Linked DNA regions of Homo sapiens: regions 2, 3 and 4 are each linked to region 1. The links come from fine-mapping of genetic effects on gene expression. A gene starts in region 1. Each other region holds a variant in brackets. All regions are shown on one strand. Distances are between the middles of the regions.

Region 1 (7,919 bases):
TTTTGGCATGGATTTCTTGAAACCAAGCAAAAACAGCCTTATCAATGTCATCATAAAGAGCGCTCCTCATCCTTTTCCGCTGGGGTCCCACGGATGCCTCCCGCACCTTTTCTTCAAATTTGGTGCGATCCTTTAAGAATGTAGATAAAGTAGAGGGAGTGATACCAAATTCTTTTGCCACATCACCTTTCCTCTTGCCTGAGTCTACAGCTCCCACAACTTTCATTTTCTCCTCCAGAGAGAACTGCCGACGCTTCTTGTTCCCCTTGTTTGCCATTTCCAGGGAATGAGGGCTGGCCACAACTAACAGGACTGTCTGGTTCCTCCTCGCGGCTTGCTTTGCCCCAAGTGTGGAAAGCTGAGAAGACAAAATGGAGTACCTATCAGGAAACAATGGATTTCCCCTAAAAGATGGTTCAGGATTTTTACAAATTGTATTAGGAAAGGACAATTTACAGTCAAAGTAAAGAAAAGATAGGATTCATGCTACTGACTTTTTGTAGAGGCTACTTGTAAAGACTCAGAATGTTTGAAACAGAAGTGATCTTATCTAGCTTACTTAAACATTCTGAACCTCCATAAAAATGGGAATAACAATGTTTGCTCTGCCTACCATGAGAACAGATTGAAATAACAGGCAGTGAAAGAGCTTGGCAAATAGCATTGCACTGTATACATTCCGAGTTATTCTCCAGCTTCTTTGATGGACACAGAAACTGGGGCCCTGGGAAGGGGCCTACCCGGGTTCATGCAGCTTAGATTTCTTAACTCAGATTACTATTTCTGCCAGGCCATGGTCCTGCTTGAAATTCCACCAAAGTGAGATCTTCAAAGCTCTACCACCATCTGGCCTGGAAAGATTTTTACTGTGGGAAGATGTTTCTGGTAGCCATACATTCATTTTATATTTACAGGTGCCAAGCTTTAAGGGTAGAGTAATGAACAAAAGAGTCAAGGTCCCTGTTCTTATGAAATATAAAATGTGGTGGGAAATATAAAAAGTAAACAGATAATTACAGAGGGTGATATGTGCTATAAAGGAAATAAAGACTATGACAAAGAATAAAAGAGGAAGATCTACTTATTATACAAAGGGTGGTCAGGGATGTCCTCACTAAGATGGCACTGAAGCTGAGATCTCCAAGAATATGGGGAAAGGGCTGTCCAGCAAAAGACATAGCATCAGCAAAACCTCAAAAGCAAAAATAGGCCGGGCGCTGTGGCTCATGACTGTAATCCCAGCACTTTGGGAGGCCAAGGCGGCCAGACCAGCCTGGCCAACATGGCGAAACTCCGATTCTACTAAAAATACAAAAATTAGCCGGGCGTGGTGGCGGGTGCCTGTAATCCCAGCTACTTGGGATGCTAAGGCAGGAGAATCACTTGAACCCAGGAGGCGGAGGTTGCAGTGAGCTGAGATCGTACATTTGCGTTCTAGCCTGGGCAACAAGAGCAAGACTCTGTCTCAAAAACAACAACAACAACAAAAAACAAAAAAAACACACACACCGAAAATAGCTTGAGGTATTCAGGGAACTGAAATATTTGCATGAATCCAAGTATATGACAAAGGTGGGTGGCCAGACCATTCAAAGATGCCATGGTAGGCTGGATGGGGTGGCTTACGCCTGTAATCCCAGCACTTTGGGAGGCCGACGCGTGTGGATCACGAGGTCAGGATATCGAGACCATCCTGGCCAACATGGTGAAACCCTGTCTCTACTAAAAATACAAAAAAAATTAGCCGGGCGTGGTGGCGGGCGCCTGTAGTCCCAGCTACTCGGGAGGCTGAGGCAGGAGAATGGTGTGAACCCGGGAGGCGGAGCTTGCAGTGAGCTGAGATCGCGCCACTGCACTCCAGTCTGAGTGACAGAGCAAGACTCCGTCTCAAAAAAAAATAAATAAATAAATAACTGGGTGTGGTGGCGCATGCCTGTAATCCCAGCTACTCGGGAGGCAGAGGCACAAGAATCGCTTGAACCCAGGAGGCGGAGGTTGCAGTGGGCCAAGATCACACCACTGCACTCCAGCCTGGCGACAGAGCGAGCCTCCATCTCAAACAAACAAACAAACAAAGATGCCATGGTAAAGAATTGGTATTTTGAGTGCAACAGAAATCCACGGATGTTTTCAGGCATTTTAAAAGGATCACTTTGGCTGTTCTGTGGAAAATGGATCAAAGAGGCAAAGAGACCAATTAGGTGACAGATTATGGCAGAAGTGATGGGCAGGTTGTAGTACAGTCCCTCTCTGGGCCTATTTTCTTTTTTTCCTTTTTTTTTTAATACATATTTTTGAAAAGTCCCATGGTTGCAAACCACAAGCCCAGATGATGCCTAAGGTCCTTCCAGATTTAAGTCTTGGACCCTAGATAGGTGCTTCAAACTCAAATGCCTTTAGGGGCCAGGATGGTGGCGTAAGTGAGTGAAACAGGGATTGAAGTATTTGGAGAATGGTGTGGTGTATCCTGTCTAGAAGTATTCAGAATTTAAAACAAACAGTCCCCCTGCCCTACGCTGGTCCAACAAAACATGATCCAGCAGTAGCAGTTTTGGGTAATTGCCTTCGTAGGCATTTTATCATGAGAATCCTTAAAGGACAAGAGAACCTGCTGTGACTTTATGCTATGACTGTCCCTTCTCAAGGGTAGATTTTTACTATCACCTCCATACATGTATCCATCCATTCATGACATGTACTATGTATTAAGCAGTATGCTTGATGCCAGCCATACAGAGATGAATGGAGCATAGTGCCCACCTTTGAGGAGCCTACCAGGGAAGACAAACACTAGAGCATGTGAAAACTAAATCAGAGGTTACGGAGTACTACTGGAACATAAATGTGCAGATAATCAACTGGAATGGAGCATGGATGGGCAGTGCACTTCAAAGAGGGAATAATATGGTGGGCCTTAAAGAATAAACAAATAGGAACTCATGAGATGAAAGGAAATATTTAACATGAAAGGCAATGAAATACTATATAGGAAATAGAATGTCCTGGTCAGGAACAAAAAATTCTTTGGAGAAGAAAGCAAGGACCAAATCACAGGAAGTCCTAGTCAGGTTTCTAGCTTGCTTTGGGGGCATTAAGAGGCTTTTGACGGTTTTTTGGTTTTGTTTTTCTGGAATGACATGATCAGATTTACAATATAGTCTTTTGGTTGCAGGGTAGAGAACCTAATGGGTAAAGTTGATTTTCCTAAGAGATGGCCTTAAATCTGAAGATAAAAGCAGGCTAAACCAGTAGGCCATATACAGTTTGGATGTTAATTTGAGTGCAATAGGAAGCTATTGAAGGATTTTAAGGAAGGAGAGATGACTGCTGTGTAAAGAATGGAAGGGTATCAGAGAAAAAAGCAGGAGTCCACATGAGATAATGGTGGCTTGGATTAGAGTAGTAATAGAGAGATGGTGAGTAGTAGTCAGTCTGGGGCTATGTTTTTGCAAGCCCTGTGCTGGACCGGATGTGAGGTGAAGGAGGAGTCAAGGATAACGCCCAGGTTTCTGGTTTGAGCACTGAGGAATCCAGCAGATGATGGTGCCATTTACTGAGGTGGGAGGATCTACTGCGTAAACCTCATTTGTTAAGCACTTTACTTGCTTAATATTGCTTACTTGTGGCAGGGCTGGGATTCAAACCCAGGAGGCTCACAACAAAGCTAGCACTCCAAACACTACAGAGTGCTATATAGCTGGTTCTGGGAACTACTAATATTGAGAGGAGACATAGAAAGAGAATGAAGCAAGAGCCAAATCAGACAAGTCTTGGTCAAGCTAAGACGTCTGAATTTTATTTTAAGTGAATGAGACACTGGAGGGTTTTAAGCAGGGAGTGACTTGATCAGACTTACAGTGCAAAATGATCAATCTGACTGCTTCGTGGAGAATGGATTGTAGAGGGGATGTGGGGAGAACTACATCAGTCCAGGCAGGAGATGATGGTGGCTAGAAGGTTGGTGATGGCGGTAGATGCAGAGAAGTAGGCAGACTGGAATACAGTGAGGGTTGTGCGGGAACTTGTACAAATGTGGACAACTTGTGACACTGGAGAGAAAGGACAATCCAATCCAATCCCTATTTGATTTACGGAAGCTCTCCATACGGTCATTCAGCTCAGCTTGAGTCACTCCAGGAACTCACTACCATCACTATTCGTGGGCCAGTGGGAGAGACGGATTGAGGGCAGATCACTGGAGTGATGAAGGCGCTACTTGATGCGGCACTACGTATGAACCCGATCCTGAATGAGAGGGAAAGACTGAGACAGGCTGAGGTCAGGCCTTGAACGTCGTGCTGAGGAGAGGGTGGTATTGTAGGCTTCCCAGCGCCCGACGTGGCTCTGAAAGGTGAGGCGGGGCCTAGATCCCTCACGCTCAGCACAGCCCCGCCCCTGTTACCTGAACGCCCCACAGCAGTGCCCGGGGGCTGAGCGGCCGGGGCGTCCCACCGCCGGCAGCCACAGCTTCCTCCTCCGCCCGGGACCTCTGGCCGGAAGCAGTCCGTTCGCCTTACTAGACCCGCTCCAAGCCTTTGAGCAGTTCGTGTGGGTCCGCTCCCAAGCTAGGGCTGGGCTGTTGCGCTTGCGCCAGGGGTCGCATGCAGTCACGCGCTGCCGACCGCTTCCGGTGCGCCGCGAGGGCCGCCGGGACGGGTCTCCCTGGCGATCCGTGGTGTGCCGCTACTGCCGGTGCAGCCGCCAAACCGGTGCCTCGGTGACGACCGTGTCCCTGCCGTCTTCCTCGAGCTCCCCGGGGCTTGACCCCCGGGGCCCTCGGCAGGCATCGGTGAGGAGCCTGCGGAGCGAACCTGTGCTCCTATTCTTGCCCTTCAGGACCCCATATCGCGACTCCGAGGAGGGGAAGCGAGAGGGGCTGTCGCGACTCCGCGCCGTGTGTCGCCGGGCGGGGCCGCGGGGCCGGGGCTCCTTCAGCCCCCGGGATGCGCGCGCGAGCCCTCGCCTCCACTTCCTTGTTGCTGCTGTCACGACTGGAGCCGCCTCTCGCCGACAGCGGGGAGCGCGAGTGCGCCAGCCATCCCCCTCGTCCAGCCGCCGGGCCAAGCGCCTCCGGGAATGTGAGCGGCGCAGCTTGCACGCTCCTCCGGGTAAGTCCCGCCTTCGAGGGCCGCGCCGAGCCGCTGGGCGACCTCGAGTTGGATGCTGCGGCTCTCTGAGCCTCTACTGAGTCTTCCACAAAGTAGGGCCACTGAGCCTTAGTGTCCTCCTTCCGCAATCCGTATGGGACATTCGGATGTCCCAGACGTCTTAGCTTGACCAAGACTTTGTCTGGTTTGGCTCTTGCTTCATTCATGACCCAGAATGAGGGAAAGGAGCTAGCCCAGAGTCAAACTGTGGCCCATGGCTGAGCCCTCAAAGGCAATCTCGTGAGATTCCAAGGAGGATCTGATGGGACAGAGAAAGTGTCTCGCATATTTCAGGTATTGACCTTAACTCTGTTTTACAGATGAAATAACGGAGACTTAGGGTAAGTAGATTGCTTAAGGTCAGAGGTCCCCGTGCTGGTGCGACTGGTGTAGTCTGTACTAGAACCCGGATTTTCTGTCCTCTAGAGCCCTTCGTTTTTAACCTTAAATTGTCCTGCCTTTTTTTGCATTGCTATACTGCTGCCTCGAGTCTGATAACAAACTTGTACTCAGGCTTAGAACAGGGTAATAAAACAAACAAAACCGTAGGGTGTTGTCTTCCTGCCCTCAGCCCAAGGTGGCTGTAATGAGTGTTTCCTAACCCGTTTTGCGCAGGGTGCTTAGTACCCTATATGCCATTCATTACAGATGCTCTCCTGCAGTTACTGCCCTTCTCCACAAGGCTTTCAGCCGCCCAGAAGTCAATTCAGGGCAAAAAAGCGCAGTCCCCACGTAGCCTTGATTTGAACTACTGCTTCCCTTATCCTTTACTGGCCTATTGCTTACCCAGCCAAGTTGTAGACTGTGTTCTCTTCCTGGGTTGCACTATGGCAGTTAGAATGTAGGTTTTTGTTTTGTTTTTCTTTGTTAGTTTAGTTTTTGTTTTTAATAGGAAGAGGAATCATTTAGAGATGACAGAGAACTAGGAAGAACCTAAGGAATAATGTGTGCTTTACCTGGGGTATATCCTGAAAATTATAGGTGAAATACAGTGTGTCTGCAATTTCTAGGAGAGGTTTTTTGTTGTTGTAGTTGTTTGTTTTTTTAAGCTTTCGCAACATTGTCAAAAGAATTCTTGCCTCCAAAAGACTAGGAGCCACTGGGTTCATCCTTTTCTCACAGTAGAAACAGTTGAAATTTAGGATGTGGAATAGACTTCTCTGAGATCATAAGGTTAGAGTTTAGGTCTCTTGACTCCACATGCAGTGCTCATTATACCTTATTTGTGGAGTGAGGTCTAAATGAGAGGTGTGTGGGCTTTGTACTGCACGTATCAGTCCCATATTTACCACCACAACTGCCTCTTCCCAGAATTCTAAATTTCCTCCTGACAGATTTTCAGGGGCAACTATGTTATTTCCTCTTGTAAAATTCAAGTGGTTTCTGTGAGCCTTTCTCCCTCCAAGGATTGAGACTTGTGGTAAAAGTCCAATTTAGAACTTGGCTACAAAAAAAACTAACTCTTCTTGAACTGGTTATTAAGTTTTTTATGCCTCTTTTCCTAGACATAAAAGCTGTTAGTAGATTCTCTGTTTTTTAGCCCAGCACCAGAGAGCTGATGTTGGTTGGTCAGATGACTGTTTAGATCTGTGCTGTCTCTAGCTCCTAGCATATGTTGCTATTTCAGTTAATTACAATTGGCCAGGTGTGGTGGTGGCTCATGCCTGTAATCCCAGCACTTTGGGAGGCCAAGGCAGGAGGATTGCTTGAGCCTAGGAGTTTGAGACCAGCTTGGATAATATAATGAGATCTCATCTCTACAAACAATTTAAAAATTTGCCAGACTTGGTGGTGCACATGTGTAGTCCCAGCTACTTGGGAGGCCAAGGTGGGAAGATCACTTGAGCCTGGGAGGTGGAGACTGCAGTGAGACAGGATCTCATCACTGCACTGCAGCCCAGGGGACAGAGTGAGACCTTGTCTTAAAAATAAATAAATTTAAAAATAAAACTAATTCAATTCTTCAGTCACACTAGCCATATTTCAAGTGCTCGATAGCCATATGTGGCTGGTGGCTACTATATTTGACAGCACAGATGTAGAACATTTCCATCATCAGAGTTTATTGAACAGTGCTGGTTTGGAGGGTTGCCAGTAGAGATGGATAGCAGTGTAGCATAATGAAAGAAGGCCCAGGGAGTTGGATTTTTGAGTTAAAAATCTATCTCTCAAGTCCCTGCTTGGGCTTGGTGGCCTTGGGAAGGTTGTTAAGCATCTCAGACACAGATAATAGTCTTTAACAGAGGCTAGATGTGGTGGCTCACGCTTGTAATTACAGCACTTTGGGAGGCTGAGGTAAGAGGATCGCTTGAGCCCAGGAGTTCAAGACCAGCCTGGACAACATAGCGAGATTTCATCTCTATTATTATTTTTTAAATTATATAAAATTAAAAAAAAAACTTAATGAACTCTTCCATTTTTTTTTCTGCCAATTACCTGACTTTAGGAATGAACCCAGCAGGGCACAGTGTAATCCCACTCATGCCTGTAATACCAACAGTTTGAGAGGCCAAGGTGGGCAGATCGCCCGAGTCCAGGATTTTGAGACCAGCCTGGCCAACATGGCAAAACCCTATCTCTCCAAAAAATTAGCCAGGCGTGATGACATCACCTGTAGTCCCAGCTACTCAGGAGGCTGAGGTGGAAGGATTGCTGAGCCCAGGAGGTCAAGACTGTAGTGAGCCCAGAGTGTGCCACTGTTCTCTAGTGACAGAGTGAGACCCTGTCTCAAAAAACAAAAACAAAAAACCCAAAAACAAACCCTTTTCATTT
Region 2 (6,297 bases), 65 kb after region 1:
ATGTGTGTGATGCCTCTTGTGACACCAGGGCCAGCCCACCCCCAGCATCTACCACCCCCCATCCCTTCCCTCATCCCCTCCCCTCACTCACACTTCAGCATCTTCACAGCCACCTTCAGGACAGCATCCTCCTTGCCCAGACCAAAGGCCGTGGCCTCCACCACCTTCCCAAAGGCTCCAGCTCCGAGGGTCTTACCTGCCACGCACACAGGTCCCTTAAGTCCCTGGGCACCAAAGGGCCTCTGTCCAAGGGCCCATGGGCTCCCTGCAACCCCCACAGGCCCTGTGATAGGAAGCTGTGGAGTGATGAGCTGCCATCTCACCAAACTGCAGGTTGTTCCGGGGGAACTCCCACTTCTCGTTGTAAGGCAGCTGCGTGGGGTCGATGAAAGTATAACTGTTGCCCTCATAGCTCTCGATGATCTTCCAGCGGACCTGGTACTTGGGCTTCTGCAGAAGAGGAAGGGAGCACGTGGCAGTCGGGGCTGGCAGGCAGTTCCTGGACCTTGTTTCTGACCCCCAAGAGCAGGGGTGTGGGCAGTCCCAAGGCGCCCAGTGGGAGAAGGCAGGGCAAGGCCTGCTCTGGGCTGAGAGAGGTCGTCTCATGAACATAGCACTGAGAGCATGTTCCTGCTTGACTCTGCCTTGTTGTGTGACCTTCCCTTCTCCAAGCCTGTTTCACTATTTGTGTATTGAAGACCTTGGACAAGACAACCTCTGAGGGCCCTGATATCTCTGATAATCTGGTAATTCCTGAGCCAGGAGGGAGGGTGGAACTTGAGATCTTATCCATCCGTTCATCTGTCCATCCATCTACCCATCCATCCACCCACCCAACCTCCCATCCAAATATATATATATATTTTAATTGTGATAAAACATACATGAAATTTACCATTTCAACCATTTTTAAGTGTATGGTTCAGTAGTATTAAGTAAATTACATTCTACCTTGTGCAACCAGTTTCCAGAGCTCTTTTCATCTTGCAAAACTGAAATTCTGTTCCTGTTAAAAAGCAACTCCCCTTTCCCTCCTCCAGCCCCTGGCAACCATGATTCTGCTGTCTCTGTGAATTGCACTGCTCTAGGCACTGCACCTCAGTGGACTCACACAGCATGTGTCTATTGAGATTGCCTTATTTCACCCAGCATAATGTCTTCAAGGTTCATTCATGCTGCAGCACAGGTCAGAATTCCCTTCCTTTTTAAGGCTGAATAATAGTAGCCCATCCACATACTTTCTTGAACATCTATTTGTGTCAGGCACCGCTGATTCAGAGTTGAACAGGACAAAGTCCCTGCCCCTCCATGGAGTTTGCATTCTAGTGGCTGAGAGAGGCATTAAACGCAAATAAACATGTATCTAGGAGATTCTCAAGTGGTGCTATGAAGAAAATAAAGTAAGATAAGTCAGGGAAGGCCCCTAAAGAGCCCACCATGTGACCATCAGAGGAAGAATTTTCCAGGAACAGTGCATGGAAATGCTGTATGCTTGACATGGGAATGATCCTGGCAAGTTTGAGCTATAGGAAGGCAGCCATCATGGCTTGAGGGAAGTGGGGGGCAGATTCCAGAAACAGGAAGGCCTTGAGGGCTATGATAAGGTGAGTGGGTTCCCTTTTGGGATTTTTTTTTTTCCAAGACAGGATCTCTGTCCCCCAGACTGGCATGCAGTGGGGGCAGTCTTGGCTCACTACAGCCTCGACCCCCGAGGTTCAAGCAATCCTCCCACCTCAGTCTCCCAAGCAGCCGGGACTACAAGCATGTGGCACCACACCTGGCTAATTTTTGTAGAGACGGGGCTTTGTCGCAGCCTAGGCTGGTCTTGAACTCGTGAGCTCAAGCAGTTTGCCTGCCTCGGTCTCTCAAAGTGCTGGGATTACAGGCATGAGCTACCATGCCTGGCCGGGCAGTGAGAGACCCTGAGAGTTTGACACAGGTGAGTCGCCATCTGACTTTTTTTTTTTGAGACAGAGTCTTGCTCCTTCACTCATGCCGGAGTGCAGTGGCACGATCATAGCTCACTAGGCTCAAACTCCTGGGCTCAAGCAATCCTTCTGCCTTGGCCTCTCAAAGTGCTGGGATTATAGGCGTGAGCCATCGCACCCAGCCTTGACTTTACCTTTTTGAGAGAGAAAGAGAGACGCTGCCCACTAGATAGATTCTGGAGGACCAGCACCTTTGGAAAGACCTGATTTCCTTCCTTAGGCTCTCCATGCTGTTACCACCCAGCCAGGGGAGGCAAGCCCTGGGATGTGGGGAGGAGGAATGGCTGCCCCTGTTTCTTGCCCAGGGGTCAGCTGCTGAGGGGGAGTACCATGCTAAGGGTTGCCCACAAGAAATGCTGATGGAAGACCAAGTTGAGGGGGAAAGTGGAAGCTGGGCTGGGGCGGTGGAGGACACTGAGGCCCTGGGTCAGCAGAGCAACTCTTTCCGGCCAGGCCTTGGGGATGGGACAAGCTTGGCTGTGCCTGCAGCTGGGCTCCTTCCCTGGGCACCCGAGCTAGAAACTTAAAGGAAGTGTGGACCGGTGCTAGGGAGGAGGCTGGCCTTTAGCTGCAAGTCCTGGTTGAGAGAGAAGATTCCAGTCATGTCCTTTGCAGCAACGTGGTGCAGCTGAAGGCCATTATCCTAAGCAAATTAACACCGAAACAGAAAACCTACATACCGCATGTTCTCACTTATAAGTGGGAGCTAAATATTGAGTGTGCATGGGCATAAAGATGGCACCAACAGACACTGGGGGCTACTAGAGCAGGGAGGGTGGAAGCGGGCGAGGGTTGAAAAACTATGGGAGCTATGCTCAGTAGCAGGTGATGGGATCCATATTCCAAAGCTCAGCATCACGAAACATACGCATGCAACAAACCTGTACGTCTATCCCCTGAATCAAAAATAAAATGTGGACATTTTTAAAGAGAGAGACAGGGAGAAAGCTTCCAGCTAACCATCAGGAAGAACTTCTAGCTGGTAGTTAGAGAGAAAAGACTGCAATTAGAAATGAGAAGGAACTAACTTCCAGGCTCTGATT[C/T]GGAAGGGCGGACTGCAGGTGAACTTCAGAGCCTCTGCGTTATAGCTTGGGAGAGAGTCTGAAACGGGACCCAGGGAGAAGAACTTCCCAAGCCTCTGAGGATCCAAATCCTGCCCGTGGGTGCCTTCCCAGCCCAAAAGACAGCAACAAGGCAAGGAGGGGATTCTTCAGCCTCTCCTGGCCACTTCCATCTCTAGGAGCCTCTGTGGCTAAGACTGTTTTTTCTTACCACTTCTTGTTCCTCTGTCCCTCTGCAGCTGGGCTGAGTCAGCCCCTCCCTGCCCCCAGCTGGGCAGGGGGCACTGTTGAAAGGGAGGGGATCAAGGAGGATGGAGGTTTGGCTGGATTCTCAGATTTCTGAATCCTAGGCTCCTAATTTCTGGAAGCGGACCAAGCTGCCTTCTGCCTGCCTCAGGAACCCTCCCCTGCCCCTGCTGGGCATGTAAACCTCCCAGGGCACCTGTGCCATCCCTGGAAAGGGCTCATGGGCGTCTACCCAGAGGCAGCCTCTCTTCCAAAGAACTATGAGTGAGAGATCAAGAGGTGGGGATGGGCGAGGCTCCCTGAGAAGGGTGGACGTAATTGTCATGATGGCAGCGGGTTCTTCCTGAGCTCTTCCTGGGAGTGGGGCGCTGGGCTAGATGCTTGAAGCACATCACCCCATTCATTCCTTGCAATGGGCCTAAGCCCCAGGCCCACCCCCTGACTTCTTCCCTTCCTCCCATCCTCCCCACCAAAGGGGGCATGGAGACAAAGTCCCGGTCCCCTCCCCATCTAGGCCTGCTGGTTCTGGGTGAGTGGATGTTCTCCATCCCAGGAAGGTGGAGATCTGAACAATTCCCAGTGGAATCTTTGGGGACCCTCCTGTTGCTCCTCAGAGCTCAGTTCCAGCCCCCAGAATCGTAGTCTTTCCAGCAGCCTCCCTGGACCCTCCCTTCCCTGCTGCCTCAGCCATTTCCCTGTGCGCCTCCTCCTCCAGGGGAGCCTGCTGACTCCTGCCCTTTTCTCTTCCCCCACGGCCCCCCTTGTGGTCACTCTGGGGGACAGAAAGGTGATGATTCAGCCCTGAGGCAGAACAAACACTCCCCACAGACAGGCCACTTCTTTCCCCAGGCCTGGGCAATGAGGAGAGGCTGGGCTGAGTCCCCAGTGAAGGGGCAAGGCTCCGAACCTCATGGGGCAAGGCAGAGGAGGATGGGAGGGCAGGCACTTAGCACGGGCATGACCATCCTGCCCCCTCCGCTCCCATGGGTGGACACCTCGGCCTGGAGCTAAAGGGTCTGTGAATGGGTGTAGGGGAGGAGGGTAGCTGCAAGTCTTCTCGCAGCCTTGCATGGGCTCCAGGGGCAGCTGAATTTCCTGGACAGGAAGTGTGGAGGTGACATGTTCCAAAAATGGTCCCGTGGAGAGGGGATACAGAGTTCCTAAACCACAGCCAAGGGGGCTGGCCAGCCCAAGGCAGAAAGGGCCGCAGGGGGCCCTAGGCTCTTCTCTGGAATCTCTGCATGACTGTCCTGGCAGCTCTGTGGGCACTGCGAGGCAGTTTTCAGTTCCATGTAAGGAAGAACTTTGCAAACATTGGAGCTGCTCAGAGAAGGAACAGGTGGCCCCGAGAGTGAGTAAGGTCCTGTCCCTGGAGGTGGGTGGGCTGGGCCAAACAACCGCTTTGGGTGTGTAGTCAAGGAGATGATGCCCGACCTCAGACCTCCCCCTCCTTCCACCATCCCAAGAGGCATGAGCTAACTCTGGTTCCCCAACGAACTTCCTCCTGGGACAAGAGTGTGCAGCTCCCATCACAGAGACTGTCTCGTCCAGCACCCCGCTCAGTCCTCTATGTGCGTTGTGGTACGGAATCCCTCACAACAGGCTGTTAATGATCCCATTTTACAAATGGAGAAGAGACTCAGACACACCAACTTTCTCATCATCCCATAGCCAGAGCTTGGCAGAGGCAGGATTTGGACCCAGATTCACTGAAGTCCAAGTTTCTGGTGCTTAAACTAGACCACCAGTGGGCTCTTGGCATGTCAGAGGAGGAGGGGCTGTTAGAGAACACCCAGACCCATGGTATAAGAGGGGAAACTAAGGCCCAGAGAGGACAGCGAGTCAGCTGAGGTTACATGGCAAAACAGTGTCAGAGCTGGACCTAGATCCGGAGGTATTGACCGGGGCTGCCCTCAGAGCAGCCTTCTCATGCTGAGTGCTGGCAGGAGTAGAGATCCCGATCCATGTGCCCCTGGGGCTCCCCCAACATCCTTCCCACCCTGCCCACTTCAAGCCCTCTTCTCACAAAAGCCCCAAGGGGGTGTGGGGAAGAAAAGGTAGCCAAGGGGACACAAGATGGGTCATTCAGTCCTTGATCACACCACTCCCTTGTTCAAACCCACTGATGGCCTTGGACCGACAGGGTGGGGTCCAACCCTTCAGACCCCCAACCCCACCCTGGTCCTTCCCTCACCTGCACCTCTGCACACTCTGCCCTCTCCCCCAGAGGTACCCTTTCCCTTAGTGTCATCTCCCCTGCTGCATCCTCATCCTCCAAAGCCCGTCCCACCAATGCCAAGCCACCTCCTCCAGGCAGTCTCCCTTACCCACCAGCCTGAAAAGTCCGTCCACCTCTGAACTCCCACAGCCCTCTGGCCTGGTCCTCTCAGCTTCTGATCACATTGCACATGGTCTTTGTGTGGGCAGGCAGGCAGTGGAGGCCATGGGCTCTAGGGACAGAAGCCCCTGGGGCCCAGTGCCAACCCTATCCCTCAGCCCCTTGGGGTTTTTTTTTTTAACCTTGCTGAGCCTCAGCTTCCTGATGGGTAAGATACTGACTAGTATACTTCCTGCCTCCAGCTTCTTGTGAGGGTAAAATAAGATGAGTCAATGTTTCACATAATGATTGGGACATGCTTTGGAGTGAGTCCTCCTTCAGGGTTAAAAACCAGACTCTGCCTTTGACCAGCTGTAGACAAGGGCAACTGTCCCAACCTCTCAGAACCTCAGTTTACAACTCTGTAAAACAGACTAATGCTAGCTGCATACAGTGGTTGCTGAGGGCATTAAATGAGATGATGTAGGTAACATGCTATAGAAAAATGCCCCTCAAATCACTGTCATATACTGAGCAGACAGTGACAGGAAGCACACTATACGCAACATGCACTAAATTGTGGCTTTGGCTAATAGGACAGTAACATGAAATAATGAAGAGGATGATGGTCACAGGCCCTCGTCTTCACTAGACCATGTGCTTCTTAGGGCAGGGCTCAGGCCTG
Region 3 (7,897 bases), 34 kb after region 1:
TCTAATACATGGTATTAGAAACTGCACAGAAGCATGTGGCAAGGCCTGGACTTGAACATGACACTCAGCCTTTGGTGGGCTTGTGACTGCCAACTGGCAGTCCAGAGGGCTCATTTGGAGAATAGCTCTACAAATTCCCCGGGAAAGCATTCCCTCAAGTCGTTTCAGGACATGGGAGCTCAGGAGTTTGGCTAAGGTTCAAAAGCACTAAATAATTTGTTCTGATCCACAGCTACCAAGTGGCCCATCCAACAGGACTTCTCAGGTGAAAGTTGTGGAGGTCAAGCCCGATATGTTTCCTCCATATAAGTACAGCTGCACTGTCACATTGGTAAGTATGCAGCTAGGTGGTGGTGGGTTGACATGGAGGTTGTTTTGATTTTGTGGTTGAAGGTCAGTAGGAGGCTGGGGGAGAGGGTGGTGGTAGCTGGGAGGGAGAACAGGGTCAGGTATAGATTGTTAATGATGAAGATCCCATCCCTGATGCAAATAATAGCTACTGGATGAATCTGCTGGGTTGTTTTGGTCTCTTTCCAGGTGAGATTTATAAAGTGTAGGACAGCTGAGATTAGTGTATTTTTATTGAGAGTTGCCAGAGATGAGAATCTAGTCCAGATTTAACATTTAGCTGTCTTGGAACCTTTTAGCTTAGAAAGGGTGTTCCACAGTTACATTTAGGCAACGTTGCCTTTTTCTCCCTAAAACAGAGTCCAGTTCAACACGAGTATCTTAAAGTAAAATAGAGAAGTACTTTAGTAAAGCAGCTTATTTTGTTTAGCCTAGTGTTTCCCACAGGGTTTTCCCTTTATTTTTAACATAACACATATTAACGTCCTAATGGACAAATGTGTGACATTGGGATCACCCTTTTGTAGGGCAGGCAGCATAGAGCAGGGAAATAAATGCTAGACAGCTGAGAGACCTGGTCCAAAAGGAGTTCTGGCTCTGCTGCTAGCATGCCATATGCCACTGGGCAAGATTCTTTCCTTCTGTGGTCCTCAGTTTCACTATCTGTAAAGTGCTGCATTGGTTTAGACATCTTTGGGGCATCTGTCACTCTCAACATTCTCTAATTCTGTTGATGCTTAAAGTATCAACCAGCAAGATGTCTTTTGGCAGTTTCTCTAGCTGATTTGATTAAGATGAACAGATTTTGAGAGAACAGCTAGATTTTTAAAAAGTCTTGCCTCATAATGGCAGACAGGTTCAGAAAGGGTCATTCATTCCTTCAAAAAATATTTATTGAGCACATATTCTGTACTAGGATCTGTACTGGGGATTCAGTAGCAAACAAGACAGCACAATGTGATGGGTTAATGTCTGGCCTGACCTGATCCATAAGGAGAATGTGTCTCTTATCCTGGAGATCTGCTCAGGTTTCTTTCTCTTGTGACCTAAATATAATCACTACCTTTTCCATGCCTTCACTCACCACTCCCTTTGGCTACAGGAGGCAACTAGATTTACCATTTAGGGGGAACTACCCCTGAGTAGACCCTCTCTTCTGCTGATTAGATAGTAACTTGTCATAGGAGCTTAGATGCTAGAGCTTTGAGCTTTAATAGTCTGTAAGTCACAGTTTGTCTTCAGGCAGGGCTTGAACTCTTTAGTTCACCAGTCTCAAGCACTCTTTGTTTAAACAGACCTGCTTTACTCCACCAACTGCCTGGACCCTGAAGGCATTTGAGTTTCTGACCATTGAGAGTCAACTCTCCTGTTTCACAGATAGGGAAGGACTGGACTGGATTTGCCAAAAATTTACAGCCTGTATTAAAAGTAAAAGAGTTAACTGCAGAAAAGGTTAAGGCTCTTGAAGTTAGGCTGAATCTGGTTTGCAGTTGCCACTCTCTTCTCTGATTTACTGGCAGCTGCTCATTCTGGTTCTGGGTTCTGCCCAGGTTTAACTTAATTTTTGTAGAATTGAACACTGGTCTTACTTTTTTAGGATTTGGGCCTGGCTACATCAAGAGGCCGGGGAAAGTGCAAGAATCCCTCTTGTAGCTATGTCTACACCAACAGGCACAAACCTCGAATTTGTCCCAGCTGTGGTGTTAACCTTGCCAAAGACCGGACTGAGAAAACCACCAAGGCTATCGTGAGTTCCTTCCCCCAAACACATCCCCTGGCCTGTTCTGGGCTCTGTTAGTGAACCTGTCTTAGTAGAAATAAGAAGATTTTTAAAGTACATGGTGGTAGTTAGAGCATCCAAACTGAACCAGTTGGTGGGTTCTGAACCTGAGCAAGTGCCGCCTTTTCTCTGAGCCTCCTTGTCCCCATTGCCAGGGTGAAGGGGTTGACTAGGTATCTTGATCTCTGAGAACCAAGAGTTCACTCACTGCAGAGAATGATGTAGCACAGGCCTTAAGTAGGAGTGAAAGGAGAGGGACGAAAGGGTTGCATCCTCTTACCGCTGAGGCCTGATACAAGACCTGTAAGTTGATTTACTGTTTCGGTAAATAGAGAATGCCAACCTGAGACTTTGCAGATTAGACCACCGCTGCTTTCTCAGGCTCCTTGGAAAGCTTTTAGTTAATCAAAGCTTTATTTCTAGCAGTCTAGGCAGCCCTCCTCTCTGAAGTTGGGCCAAACTACTTGGGTAGTAAAATACATTCCACTTGGCTCCTTAGGGCTGCTATTATTATTATTACTATTACCAGGAAAAATGGGCATTTTCAGAGGTCCCCAGAATTTCCATATGAGTTTTTTAAAGTGAACAGAAAATGGTGGCACTTGAGGCAGCAAATGGAAGGACTAAAATAAGGATGAGAAGAGAAATGTCACTGGTCTGCCTTGGGGAAAGAGGGGATGGCACACAGAACAGGTCAGGACCTGAGATGGAGCCTGGTCACTCCAGATCAAGGCTGGACCTTGAAAGGCAGGCAGGTTTTGAATGGAAGGGGAAGGCATGCCATACTTAAGTCTCTCCCACTAGACTGTAGTCTGGTGAGTGAACATGAAGTGTGAGTATGGATAAGGATAAGTGTGAGTGATAAGGATAAGTGTGAGTGAACATGAAGAGTGTTCCATTTGGCTGGAGGAGATGGCGTGGGGGCATGGGGTGGGAGAAGGGGTGTTACGGAAAATAAGACGTGAAAAGCATCTTGGAACCATGTC[A/G]TGGAAGGTCTTGTCAGTTTGTTCTTTAGTCAGTGGGGTCCTACTGAATGTCCTTGAGCCGGGGAGAGGCCTAGAGGAAAGTTATTTCAAGAGGGGAATTTATGGGATGAGAGTTTGGGAGTAGACAGGACTACAGAGGTGGGGAGAACTGCTTCAAGCTTAGAGGTTTATTTGTATATGGAGAGAGGCCTTTTTGATGATGAATCTCACCCTGGTCTCCAGAGTCTGTTTCCGTGCTTGAGGTGATGTTCTGAGGTTATTGTCCTTGTGAGAAAGGAAAGTGGAACCAAAGTATGTGGGCACTAATGGCTTGGTGGGAAAAACACTGGGGCTGGGAGTGACCCTGAGTTGGAAGCTTCCCTCTCCCGAGCTTTAGTTTCTCCATTGGTAAAGTAAGGTGGGCAAGGTAGATTAGATCTGGGCATTTTACTCTTAAGAGACAGGAGCCTTAGAGAAGACTGATAATTGAGTTTTAAGGAGTTTATAAATCCCTGAAATTGCATGCAAAATGGGTCCGTAGCTTTCATCAGATTCTCTTGCTCCACTGGATGCCTGCTGCTGGAAGTAAGCTTTCTTCCCGGATTTTCAGTGGGTTTCAAAGTGCTCTTCTTGCCATAGCATTGATCACACCCCATATTGACTGCTTTTCTTAACTCCCTATGAGACCACAATCTCTTCTAGGGCAGGTATGTCTGTTTTTCCTGCACCTTCTAACCCTGGAGCTTACATATACAAAGTGTGTCTATCTGTAATTAGGAGATAGAATTGAGTTCTGTGTAGGTAGAAGCTCTGAGCATTCCTTTCTCCTTCCAGTTCATTTTAGCTATTTGCGCGGTTTGCAGTGGAAGTGGGTGTTACTCTCTAGATCTAGGATGATGAAGGAACTTAACTTCTCAGGTGACATAGGAAATTATCTAGGGACCTCTTGCCAATTTCAAATCCCACTCTTAAACTTATATCCATCTGTATTTGGTTAACTGAGAACTGCCCACCCCCAGGACCCTCATCTGCAGACCTTCCATCACTTTCCAATCTCCTAAAGTTTGGAGAAATACAGTGTAATTACTGCTTTCCAGAAAATAAAGCACTGGTCAGAACCACAGGGATCTTCTTGTGTGTTGTCATTTGGAGCCCCCTGGTAGCCAGATGTTTTCACATCTCTGAGATGGAATGGTCTTTAGTCCTTTCTATCCTTCATCTCTGGCGAGAGTCACGGGACAGTATTCCTGCCAAGTGGTCTTCCAGCTGTGGTTTCATAGTCATGACTGAGAACACACAGCCTCTCGGGGCAGCTCATTCTAGTGTTAGTCAGCTCTTCTGTAGCCACTGATTAATTAATTCTCTCAGCCAGCCTATATTGAATGCCTGCTATGGGCCAGGCTTTCAGAGATGAATAGGACGTGGCCCTTTCCCTTGAAGAGCTTACAGTCTAGTGGGAGAGAAAGATAACCAAGCTATTACAAATGAAAGTTGTCATAGGTATGCGGAGTTAATAAAAAGCTCCTTATTAAGTGTCCTAGTCTGTTTTGTGTTGCTATAAAAGAATACCTGAGGCTAGGCAATTTATAAAGCAAAGAGGTTTATGTGGCTCATAATTTGGCAGTCTGTACAAGAACCATAGTACCAACATCTTTTTTGGTGAGGGCCTCAGACTGCCTCCACTCATGGTGGAAGGCAAGGGGAGCCAGCATGCATAGAGATCACATACAGAAAAAGGAAGCGAAACTCATTCACCACCTCCCTTGCTCCTGCCCCACGATAATCTACTCATGAGGGATCTGCCCCCCTGACCCAAGTACCTCCCTTTAGGACCTGCCTCCAACGTTGGGGATCACATTTCAACATGAGATTTGGAGACGGTAAACATCCAAACTATAGCATTAAGCATTTAACTTCTACAGAGCCATGTATAATATGTCCATCACATATGAATCAGTATCTTATGTGTGTCTCAGGCATCATGCTGGTTGGGAATCAGTAAATAAGCAGAATCCTACCCTTACTGAAGCGGGGAGGGTGGTGGTTTAGCAGCTGTCAGATGATGAATTCTGCAGTCAAGGGGTGCACTCAGAGAACACAAAGCGGGGAGTGATTTATGCTGCCTTGGCAAAAAGGATCAGGGAGAAGCTCCATTGAAGAGAGACCTGCTTGAGAAAGACCTATTTTTAATGAGTATTTCAGAACATTGTTCCTGGAAGCCTCTGACTGGTATACAAAATTACCTTGTACCCAGAAGCCACCGAGAATTAAAGACAGATAACTTTAAGCAGTGCAGATACTTGTTTATGTATCAAAACTATCATTCATAGAGCCTTCATTGCACCATAGGCATTGTGCTAAGTGCTTTACTTATAATATCTTACTTAATCTGTATAATGGCTCTAAGAGATTACTATTTTTATGCCCCATTTCACAGATGAGGAAATTGAGACTCAGAAAGATTAAGTAAATTGCCTTGGGTCCCACATACACAGCTGTTAAGTGGCATATCCAGAACTGAAACCTGGGTCTGTTATCCTCTAAACCCCATACCTGATGAATGAGAGCTAAGTGTTGAATCCATTACCAAGAGTTGTATATAATCCTCTCATTTACTGATACAGGTTGACTATCCTGTATCTGAAGTGCTTGATACCAGAAGTGTTTTGGATTATTTCATAATTTGCAATATTTGCAGAATACATACTGCTTGAGCATCCCTAATCCAGTGATTCAAAATCTGAGATGTCTAATGAGCATATCCCTTGAATGTTGTCTCAGTGGTCAAAAAATTTCAGATTTCAGAGCATTTTGGATTGGGGTGCTCAACCTGTAGAGAAACTGAGCCCCACAGAGAAAAATAACCAGCCTTTAGTCACACAGTGAGTTATTAGCTGAGCTGGTTAGGAACCTAGGTTTGCCACCTATCAGTCATGGGCCCCATCTGTCTGCTGCTCCCAGACTTTTATTATTTTAGCCTGAAGCTGGCTCTTTCTGCTCTGAGTGCTTGGTGATCAATCCACTCTCTTCCCAGGAGGTGAGCTCACCACTCCCAGATGTACTGAATGCCACAGAGCCCCTGAGCACAGCCCAGAGGGAGATCCAGCGCCAGTCCACACTGCAGCTGCTGCGCAAAGTCCTGCAGATTCCTGAGAATGAGTCAGAGCTGGCTGAGGTCTTCGCCTTGATTCATGAACTCAACAGCTCTCGACTTATCTTGTCCAACGTGAGTGAGGAGACAGTCACCATCGAGCAAACCTCTTGGTCGAATTATTATGAGTCTCCGTCCACGCAGTGCCTTCTCTGTAGCAGCCCATTATTCAAAGGGGGACAAAAGTAAGCACCCCTTAACTCTGCCCCTAGCTACCCCATCCCATTTGGCTCATACTGCTCTTTTCTTCAGAAAACATTAAAACTATAACTGTGAAGATGTTATTCTCTGCCGTTTTTAGGCTTCCTTTAACTTTCTGATTGCTGAAAGTAAAGTAATAATTGGTAATTATCATTTCTGTTGAAATGCCTGAAAGTTATCACCAGATTAGGATTTAGTTTACATCTGGACTGCCCCACACAATGTTTAGGTTTGGGAGTTCATTGGGATTGGTTAAATTATGTAATAAATTCAGAGTTACATTAATTGTAGGGATGATTCCACAGATTCCAACAAAGTGGAAATACCTACCTAGAAAATCCTAAGCTCCAGCAAATGAGAATTTGCCATTGATCACTGAGCCCTGGAACTCCATAAAGAAGTCTCTTTCCCTTCTTTTTTTTTGTTGGTGATGTTTCTGGTACTAGCTCCCTGGCTGGGCCCCAGGAGTGCTGGCTGCTGACAGCCAGCCGTCTGCAGACAGTGACTGCCCAGGTGAAGATGTGTCTGAACCCCCATTGTCTGGCCCTGCACAGCTTCATAGACATCTACACAGGTGGGTGCCAACCTTCTCTTCCCTCAGAGCATCCCAAAGCAGGCTTGGGAACTGCCTCTATGGATGAGACCTCTGGCCCTTTGAGGACTGGGCCTTCTCAGATGGGGCTTCTGAGGAAGGGGGAGTCTTCTTCCTAAATGTCTTAGTCCCACAAGATGACTTTTACCTCTCAAGTGTTGAAGCTCTCAACTGGGATCTTTAAAATAACAGATCTTCATTGTGGAAGGGCTGGAAAATGCAGACAAATAAAAAGAGGAAACAAAAAATCAAGAGCATTGCTACTGCCATGAGATAAACACTTATTTAACAGTGTGATCAATCTTCCAGAAATGTTTATTCATCTGTGCAGAATATAAGAAATTATAGGATGTATAGGTTTATAGTCTTTCTTTGAACAAAAGTACGGTTGTGCTAGATGTTGTTTTGGAATGTGCTTTTTAAACTTAGGGGTACATTGTGGGCATCTTCCTGTGCCAGCAAGTAGAGAAGTACATGACCATTTTTATAGGGATGTATGGTGCTCCAGTTTACACTTTTGTGATTCAGTCTTTGTGTACAGCCCTAATTTGTCTTTTGGACAAATACTCAGAAGTGGAATTGCTGCACATTTACCCTTTCCTCCCCTATTATTCATCAACATCAGGCATTTGTGGAACACTCACCGTGTACCAGCCATTTTAAGACTTTGGTTGAATCCTAAGTTTTGTTTGTAGAATTGAGTGCTGAAGATGAAAGTGTATTTTTGATGTATTCTCTTTGTCTTAGAACTTAATGGTGCTTTATTTTGAATTCATGTTTTTAATGTCTTATATTATTAGATTGAGTTTGTACTATTTTATGCTCTTGCCAACAGTTAACAAAAGTGCCTATTACCCTGT
Region 4 (7,919 bases), 43 kb after region 1:
ACAAATATTTGTGTACCAGCTTTTGTGTGAACCTAAGTTTTCATTTCTCTTGGGTAAATACCTAGGAGTCAGATTGCTGGGTCATGTGGTAAGTGTGTGTTTAATTTTATAAGAAAACTGCATTACCAAAGTGGCTGTACCATTTTGCATTCCTTCCCACAATGGGTAAAAGTTACAGTTTGCTCTACATGCCAGTACTTAGCATTATCTGTTTTTGTTTTTCAGCCATTCTAATAGGTGTGTCTCCGTATAAACTGTAGAGTCAGCTTGTCAATATCTACAAAGTCCTGCTTGAATTTTAATTGGATTGTGTTCAATCTGTACACATCAATTTGGGAAATTTTGACATGCCTAACAATGTTGAATCTTCCAGTCCATAGTCTTTCTCTCCATTTTAATAGGTTGTCAGTTTTTCTAGTTTCAGCATATAGGTCCTGCCCATATTTTGGTAGACTTACATATAAGTATTTTACTTTTTTTTTTCAGTGCTAAATGACATGGTTCAATTTCTAGCTATTCATTGCTAGTATAGAAGTATAATTAAGTTTGTCTGTTGACTTTGTTTTTGTAAATATTATAATTTTTTTAAGTTTATCAATTTTATAGGTAAAAACTTGTGTATAATCAGGTAATTTGTTGTATTTCTTTGTAGTAGGTAGAGTATATGTCCTTTTTATGATCCTTTATGGGTTTTTTTCTATAGTAAATTTCTTTTGTGTTTTCATTCTTCTTTTGGTCTTTTTTGTTGACAGTTTTCTCCCAGTTTATCGCTCTATTTATTCAGTTTTACCTCTAGCCTGTCAGAATGTGATATCAGTTGTCTTTTACATTTGTACCTGGTGATTTCTGGGGGCGTCATGACTTTTGCTTTTTAAAAAATATTTGTATGGGACCAGAGCTTTGCTCTCCCTTGTGGTTTCAGCCTTTGCACTTCTCCTTACCCTTCTTCACTGGGAACACATACTCCAAAATTTGCTTTTGTGCAGATTAGTGCATTATGTTTTGTGCACATATAAAATCACCCACTTTTATTTGTCTTAAATTGACTGCGCTTAAATTCCTCAGATTCATTCATTTCAGGATTTGGTGTTGGAGTGATTTCATAGCCTTTGTTGTACCCCTTACACATTCATGAGCTAAAGGATGCTCCTGGCCTTTCCCCAGGTGAAGTTGTGTGAGGTGTAAAGGAAGAGTGATACCTTTGGTCCTGAGGACTGAGCTGGGTGGGAAGAAAGTGTTCCTTTTTTTTATTGGGGGAAAAAGATCTACTATATGTACTATTTCATTATTTTTTGTTTGTTTGTTTAATGATGTATTATAGGCAACTTTGCGTCAGAACAGTTAGATCTACTTCTTTTTAAAAAAAAATGGATTCCATGTTGGAATACTTTATTCTTTTTAATGCTTTCTATTTTATGAATTCACCATAAATTAATTAACCCTTTCCCTATTGATGGGCATTTAGTTGTGGGGTTTTTGTTTTGCCTTTTTCAAGATATATAACTTGAATAAAATAGAGATGGGGCTTTGCTATGTTGTCCAGGCTGGTCTTGAACTCCTGGGCTCAAGCGATCCTCCCACCTTGGGAGACTACAGGTCTCCCAAAGTGCTGAGACTACAGGCATGAGATTACAGGCCATACCTGGCCTGTTTTGTTTTTTTGAGATGGAGTCTCTCACTGTGTTACCCAAGCTAGTCGACAACTCCTGGGCTCAAGCGATCCTCCTGCCTCATCCTCCCAAGTGCCTGCAACTACAGGCACGTGCCACCGCACCCAGCTGGTGTGTATTCTATTTTTTGCCATTGTGTATGATACATTAATTTCCTTGTTGCCTCTTCTTAACCTGCAGGTCTCTTTAATGTGGGGAACAAGCTGCTGGTAAGCCTGGACTTGCTTTTTGCAATCAGAAATCAGATCAAGCTCGGAGAGGACCCCAGAGTGTCCATCAATGTTGTTCTGAAGTCGGTGCAGGAGCAGACAGGTAAAAGTTGTTTTCTTCCCTTTCCCAAGGTTAGTCCTAAGCTCCCTCGGAATTTTCAGTGATGGCATTTGGTTAAAAGACTCATTTTGAAGAAGAGTCTGATTATTTTGAAAAGGAGACATTCTTGACTTCCTAATACACTCTTCCTTTTGAATTTTACAAATGCCAAACTAATTTTGGAAAGCATGAATCTTTTTGTGCATCCAGGGACCCTTAGCAAGAGATTACGAGTGACTTGTAGAAGTACCTTCTTTGGTCATAGGGAGACTTGGCCCCATTGCATGTTAGACTCATTCTGACCACACAGCTCCTGGATATCTGCTTCCAGTCCCAAGGCTCATGCCAAGACCTAAGAGTGAGGACCATCCTTTCTGTCTAGAATATTTTTCCTCCATGCCCTCTTTACTCCTATTTGTGCTTTTCCCATCCCATTCCTATAGGCTCCAATCCCCCTCTACCTTACCTGCTGTGAGAACAGATGGAGTAGAGCCTACTAGAGTTACATGGGCCTGTGTTTCAGTCTTGGCTCTGCCACTGTTGCAGTGTGATTTTGAGCAAGTTATTCTTGTGCCTCTGTTTCTCCAGTTATAAAATGAGGATAATAGCTCCTCGTTCATAAAGAATTAAATTGAGGTGAGATTAATGACATAACATATCCAAAGCTTTCAGCACAGCATCTAGTACTTAGTACAAGGCAGCTATCACTCCAGTGGGAATTGCTCTTTGGGTTGCCACCTGAGCACTTGCAGGCCAGATCCCTGACCCTCAGGGTAGGTAGTACACTGGAGTGTTCTTTAAGGTGAATCAGTCTGGCAGAATTGCTCTACTTACTACCCACTGGCTCATCCCTAGTGGCTTCAGTGTCTTTTTCTGTGCCCTTCTCAGTGTTCTTGCTCTTCTTTCAGAGAAGACTCTGACCTCGGAGGAGCTGAGCCAGCTGCAGGAGCTGCTGTGCAATGGCTATTGGGCCTTTGAGTGCCTCACTGTCCGAGACTACAATGACATGATCTGTGGCATCTGTGGTGTGGCCCCCAAAGTGGAAATGGCTCAGAGGAGTGAAGAGAATGTGCTAGCACTGAAGAGCGTGGAGGTAAGTGCCTCTTAGCCACCGTGAGGGACCTGCGGAATTTTCTCATTTTGGCACCTCCCTTCCTATATGATATCCCCAGGGGGTGGATAGCTCCAGTCCTGTCTAGGTGAGGCAAGTGAGTTTTTCCTCCCACAGCCCAAGATTTCATTTAGGGAATGCCAGATGGAAATGGAGGCATTTGTTTATTCAGTTACTCACTTGAAAAATGTATTTATCCAGTGAATAAGTATCAAAAAATATATATAGTAAATATATTGAACATAAACTAAATGCATGTTTTAGACACCTGGGAGATAGTAGTTAAACAAAGTTTCTGTCCTCATGGAGCTCACTTTCTGGTTTGGAGGACACAGGAAACAAATATCTGTCCAGGAGTAGTGAGTGCTGTGAAGCACAGTAAAGCTGGGTAAGAGAGAGAGAACAGTGTCATGGGAAAGGGCATTTGTATTTTATAGAGGGCAGTGAGGGGGGAAGGCCCCTCTGATACAGTAGCATTTGAGTAGAGATCTGAAACCCATGTGGCTTTGTGGAGGAATATTCCAGGCAGAGGGAACAGCTCGAACAGGGTCTGAGGAAGGCTTGCTGGGTATGATTGAGGACCAGCAAGGAGACCAGTGGTGCAGCTCAGAGTGTGGGAGGGAGGGAGGGAGTGGTGGGGTGTATGAGGTCCAGACAGTGCAGGAGGCCGACGCTATGTAGGGTAACATGGGCTATTTTAAGGACTTACACAGAGTGAAATGGAGAGCCACTGAAGGGGTTGGAGGAAAAGAGTGACCTGAGCTAACTTAGGTTCTGAACTGAAAAATTTTCACACAATAATAACATCAAACTCAGATGGCTTCATAGATTAATTAGAACAAATATCCAAGAAATATTATTCCAAACATAGGCAAGTAACAAAAGTGGGCATGTTTCCCCAACTCATCATATAAGGTTGTATAACTTTGGAAACCAAATCAGACATTTGATGTAAGAGAAGAAATTGGGGCTGAAT[A/G]TACTCATGAATATAGATGAAAGTCTGAATAAAATAATAGCAAATCAGATCTAACACAGTAATGCATCATGACAAAGTTAAACACAGGAAAGCAAGGTTGTTTCAGCAGTAGGAAATATGTTAATGTAATTCACTACTTAACCGATTAAAGGGGAAACCCTATATGATAATTTCATTAAATGTATGGGGAAAAAAAAGTTGTCCAGTATGATTCTACACCCATATTTATGATAAAACTTTTAGCAAACAGAACAGTAGGAAATCTTCCTTAACCTTCTTTAGGGTTTAAAAAAAAATCCCATAGATTACTTTTCCCTGTGATCATGCTATGAGGTCTGGTCTACACTCACAGGCAGGGACTGCGCCTTGAATATGCCAGTAGTTGCATAGGAGTGTGAGGTTTCCATCTCTGAACTCTACCATAGTAAACAAGAGCCTGGGACATGAGCTGACTTTCAGGTACTGGACTTGCATCTCATGTGTTCACTGATCAGGCAGGTGCAGAACCTGTAGAGAACAGCTTTGGTGTATTCTGGCAGGACCACTAGACATATTAAGGGTTGAATGCATAGTCCTGTCTTTTACTTCCCAAGTAAGAAACCAGGCAACTAAACCATTTTGTTTGTGTTATCTCATCTAGAGGCTGTTTCCAGATTGATTCAAATCCGCTTGCCTAGTAGTAGTGTTAATAATAATGCAGCTAAGATTTATTGAGCATTTTATTACTATGCCAAGTTCTTAATCTGTGCTAAGTGCTTTACTATATGACTTAATTTTCCCTACAACCCCATGAGGTTTTTATAGACATAGGCACTGAAGCCCAAGGGCCTTGCCCAAGCTCACCCAGCCAGAGAAGGGTGGGGCTGAGATTGACCTTGCTCTTTCTCAGCCGCTGACTGTGGAGTCTGCACCCTAAGCACTGCCATTCTCACCAGTACCTCCTACGACTCTGAGTTCTGTTTCTTCTGATCATATCTGGCCACAGCAAGTTTATGGTTTCCAAGAATAGACAGAGGCCCACCTCCCTGCAAAGGTGCCATCTCCTAGTCCTGCCTGGCACCCGTCCTGTCCCAATCAAGGCTCCTCTGTCCCAGAATGGAGTAGCATTCCCTTCACTCTCAGTTTGCTTGTCTCTTTCCTTCAGTGGTACCAGGTACTTCTTTCATAGAGGTACTTCTTTGTTTTGTGTGTGGAGAGTAGTGTGGTATGTGTGGGGAGAGAGTATCCTGAAGTCTGTGAACTAAAACAGGAAGTTATTGAACAAAACTTAAATATGCTGTTATCCATGAAGAGACTTGTCAGCCCCTCTCTCGGAGTTGTATAAAGGAGGACCCTGTGGTTAGTTTGTGTACTGGGTTGGCATTTCCTGTTCCCTTGCTCCTTGTGGAGAGGATAGACTCAGCTGGCCTCATTCCCCTAGGTGTGCCATTTACACAGAGCATGCACTAAGCACCCCTGTGAGGTGGCAAACAAAGAGGAATAAGGTGAGGAGAGGAGCCTTTATGGGGAGCAGTGGTTCTTGGACTTTAGTGGGTATAAGAACTACATAGGGCAGTGGTTCTCACAACTTTTTACAGTGGAGGGCTTGCTGGGTCCCACCCACAGGATTTCTGACTCAGGAGATCTGGAGTGGGGCCAGGAATTTGCATTTCTAACAAGTTGTCAGATGATACTCTTGCTGCTTGTCCAGGACCACCCTTTGAGAACCATTCCTCTGAGGAAACTTTTTTAAATGCAAAATTAGGAGTTTAGTTCATACAGCTCAAGATGTGGCCAAGGTTTTTACATTTCTAATAAGTAAGCTATACAACTGTGATTGAGGTATTAGGATCCGGGTCACGTTTTGAGAGCCATATAAGAGGGCATTGCAAGAAGAAAAATTGAGTAGCACAAGCGCTATTAATAGATGTCTATAAGAGATAAGTAAATGCTGCCCTGGGTAGAGGAGATAGCTGTGTGCTGATGATGTGTGGGAGGATGTCGGCAATCCACAGGGCCTTGGAAAATGGCTGGAATTTTACTCAATAGGATTCTGCTCGTTCTTGCCAGCCTGGTATCAGCAGTAAGGGTTTGGGCTTTGGAACTAGACCTGTGTTGACGTGATTGTTCTGTCTCTTCGAGTGCTTGAATACTCACCTCAGCCATCCCCAGACTTGTTTTTTAGTAGTTCATTACAAAGTGTCTGGCACATAACAGGTACTCAAATGGTAGCTCCACTTTCTTTGTAAGACAGGGAAAATGACATAAACAAAGGTATAGAAACAGAAGGGATTTAGGAACTATTCATGTCTGGGAGAGTACTATGGTGTGAGGGAAAGAAATGTGACCAAAAGGCAGGTGGGTACAGAGCTGTCAAATTCAAGGCCCTGTGGCAGTGCCTGGCTGTCTGACTTCCCTTCACCAAGCCTTGGCTTCCCTGTGTGTATAATGACGGGGTAGGCTGTTGTGTTGCTGATGTTCTGTGACTCCCACAGTTTGACCTTCTTTATCCTGACCTTCTAGTTCACCTGGCCTGAATTCCTGGGCTCTAATGAGGTAAATGTGGAGGACTTTTGGGCCACGATGGAGACAGAGGTGATTGAGCAGGTGGCATTTCCTGCCAGCATCCCTATCACCAAATTTGATGCGTCTGTTATTGCCCCCTTCTTCCCACCACTCATGAGAGGAGCTGTGGTCGTCAACACTGAGAAAGACAAAAACCTGGATGTGCAGCCAGTACCTGGTAAGGCCACCTGGTGGCTGACTGGGGTCAAAAAAGGGCTCAGTCAAGAGTCTGGGACATTGTCCATGGCAAGATAGCACAGTGGTAGCGAGAGGGCCAGGCCCCGCTGCAGGACTCCTTTCAGAAAGATAATAACAGCCCGTGTCAAAATCCCCTAGAGTTTAAAGTTGTGGTGCAGAGTTTTGAAGAGCTGTCCTCCATCTTACATAGCAGGGGCGCACAGCTCATTGTCAGCCTTCTGGGATACACACACTGAGTAGCAGAACTCCTATAAAAAATGCTGATAAGGCTCCATCCCCAAAGGTTTTCATTGAGCAAGTGTAGGGGCAGGCCAAGGAATCTGCCTTCAAAACAGGCCTCCCAGAGGGTTTTGCAGCTAGTTTTATGGATTAGACATTGAGAAACCCTGGACTAGCGGGTAAGAGGATAGGTTTCTAACAGCTTGAGTTTGATTCCCAGCTTTGCCACTTAGCTGTGTGACCCTCTGTCAGGTCCCATCATTGCCCTAAGCCACTGTTGCTTCTTTTACAAAGAGGGTGCGATAATAGCTACCCACTTCCTAGATCACTGAAGATAAAGTGAGCTAATGCGGTTAGAGTGATAGCCGCCTTTTTTAACTGTAACCCATAGTGAGAAATACATTTTGTGTCATGACGCAGAATGATATTCGTACATATGCAAGTGTGTATAACTGAAACAACATTCCCAAAACAGTATTTTTCTTTATTTTCTATCTTATTTCATTTTTGAATTTTTGGATATGACCCACTCAATTGATATTGTAATCACTTAATATGTTGTGATCCACTGGTTCTCAAACAGTGCTTCCTAATATTAGATATTGAGGCTGGGCACGGTGGCTCACGCCTGTAATCCCAGCACTTTGGGAGGCCCAGGCGGGCGGATCACGAGGTCAGGAGATCGAGACCATCCTGGCTAACACGGTGAAACACCATCTCTACTAAAAACACAAAAAATTAGCCGGGCATGGTGGCGGGCGCCTGTAGTCCCAGCTACTCAGGAGGCTGAGGCAGGAGAATGGCGTGAACCCGGGAGGCGGAGATTGCAGTGAGCCGAGATCGCGCCACTGCACTCCAGCCTGGGCGACAGAGCGAGACTCCGTCTCAAAAT

What was found. PIP is the estimated chance that this variant, and not a neighbour inherited with it, causes the effect.
Region 2: its variant is the best candidate, but not a certain one, in a credible set for the expression of HMGXB3 in T cells (TOPMed, PIP 0.87).
Region 3: its variant is the best candidate, but not a certain one, in a credible set for the expression of HMGXB3 in whole blood (TOPMed, PIP 0.79).
Region 4: its variant is the best candidate, but not a certain one, in a credible set for the expression of HMGXB3 in whole blood (TOPMed, PIP 0.85).

Annotation. Positions count from the first base shown.
Region 1 is chr5:149,996,072-150,003,990 of GRCh38, forward strand. HMGXB3 (HMG-box containing 3) reads left to right here and starts at 4,668. Exons shown (of 20, transcript NM_014983.3): 1 at 4,668-5,108. It overlaps TIGD6 (tigger transposable element derived 6), which reads right to left and starts at 4,583. Exons shown (of 2, transcript NM_030953.4): 1 at 4,403-4,583; 2 at 1-358. The coding sequence starts at 277. RefSeq lists enhancers at 3,807-4,595, 5,483-5,562 and a silencer at 4,323-4,402.
Region 2 is chr5:150,061,400-150,067,696 of GRCh38, forward strand. It overlaps CSF1R (colony stimulating factor 1 receptor), which reads right to left. Exons shown (of 21, transcript NM_001288705.3): 11 at 324-450; 12 at 92-196. Among named protein-coding and RNA genes, the nearest start is that of CSF1R, 22 kb to the right of the region's middle. RefSeq lists a silencer at 3,436-3,611 and an enhancer at 5,562-5,611. The variant C/T (reference allele first, on the strand shown) is at 3,032.
Region 3 is chr5:150,030,509-150,038,405 of GRCh38, forward strand. It overlaps HMGXB3 (HMG-box containing 3), which reads left to right. Exons shown (of 20, transcript NM_014983.3): 10 at 233-331; 11 at 1,946-2,095; 12 at 6,128-6,429; 13 at 6,892-7,019. Among named protein-coding and RNA genes, the nearest start is that of HMGXB3, 34 kb to the left of the region's middle. RefSeq lists enhancers at 4,709-4,758, 4,879-5,088. The variant A/G (reference allele first, on the strand shown) is at 3,115.
Region 4 is chr5:150,038,898-150,046,816 of GRCh38, forward strand. HMGXB3 (HMG-box containing 3) reads left to right here. Exons shown (of 20, transcript NM_014983.3): 14 at 1,851-1,982; 15 at 2,888-3,072; 16 at 6,569-6,788. Among named protein-coding and RNA genes, the nearest start is that of HMGXB3, 42 kb to the left of the region's middle. The variant A/G (reference allele first, on the strand shown) is at 4,067.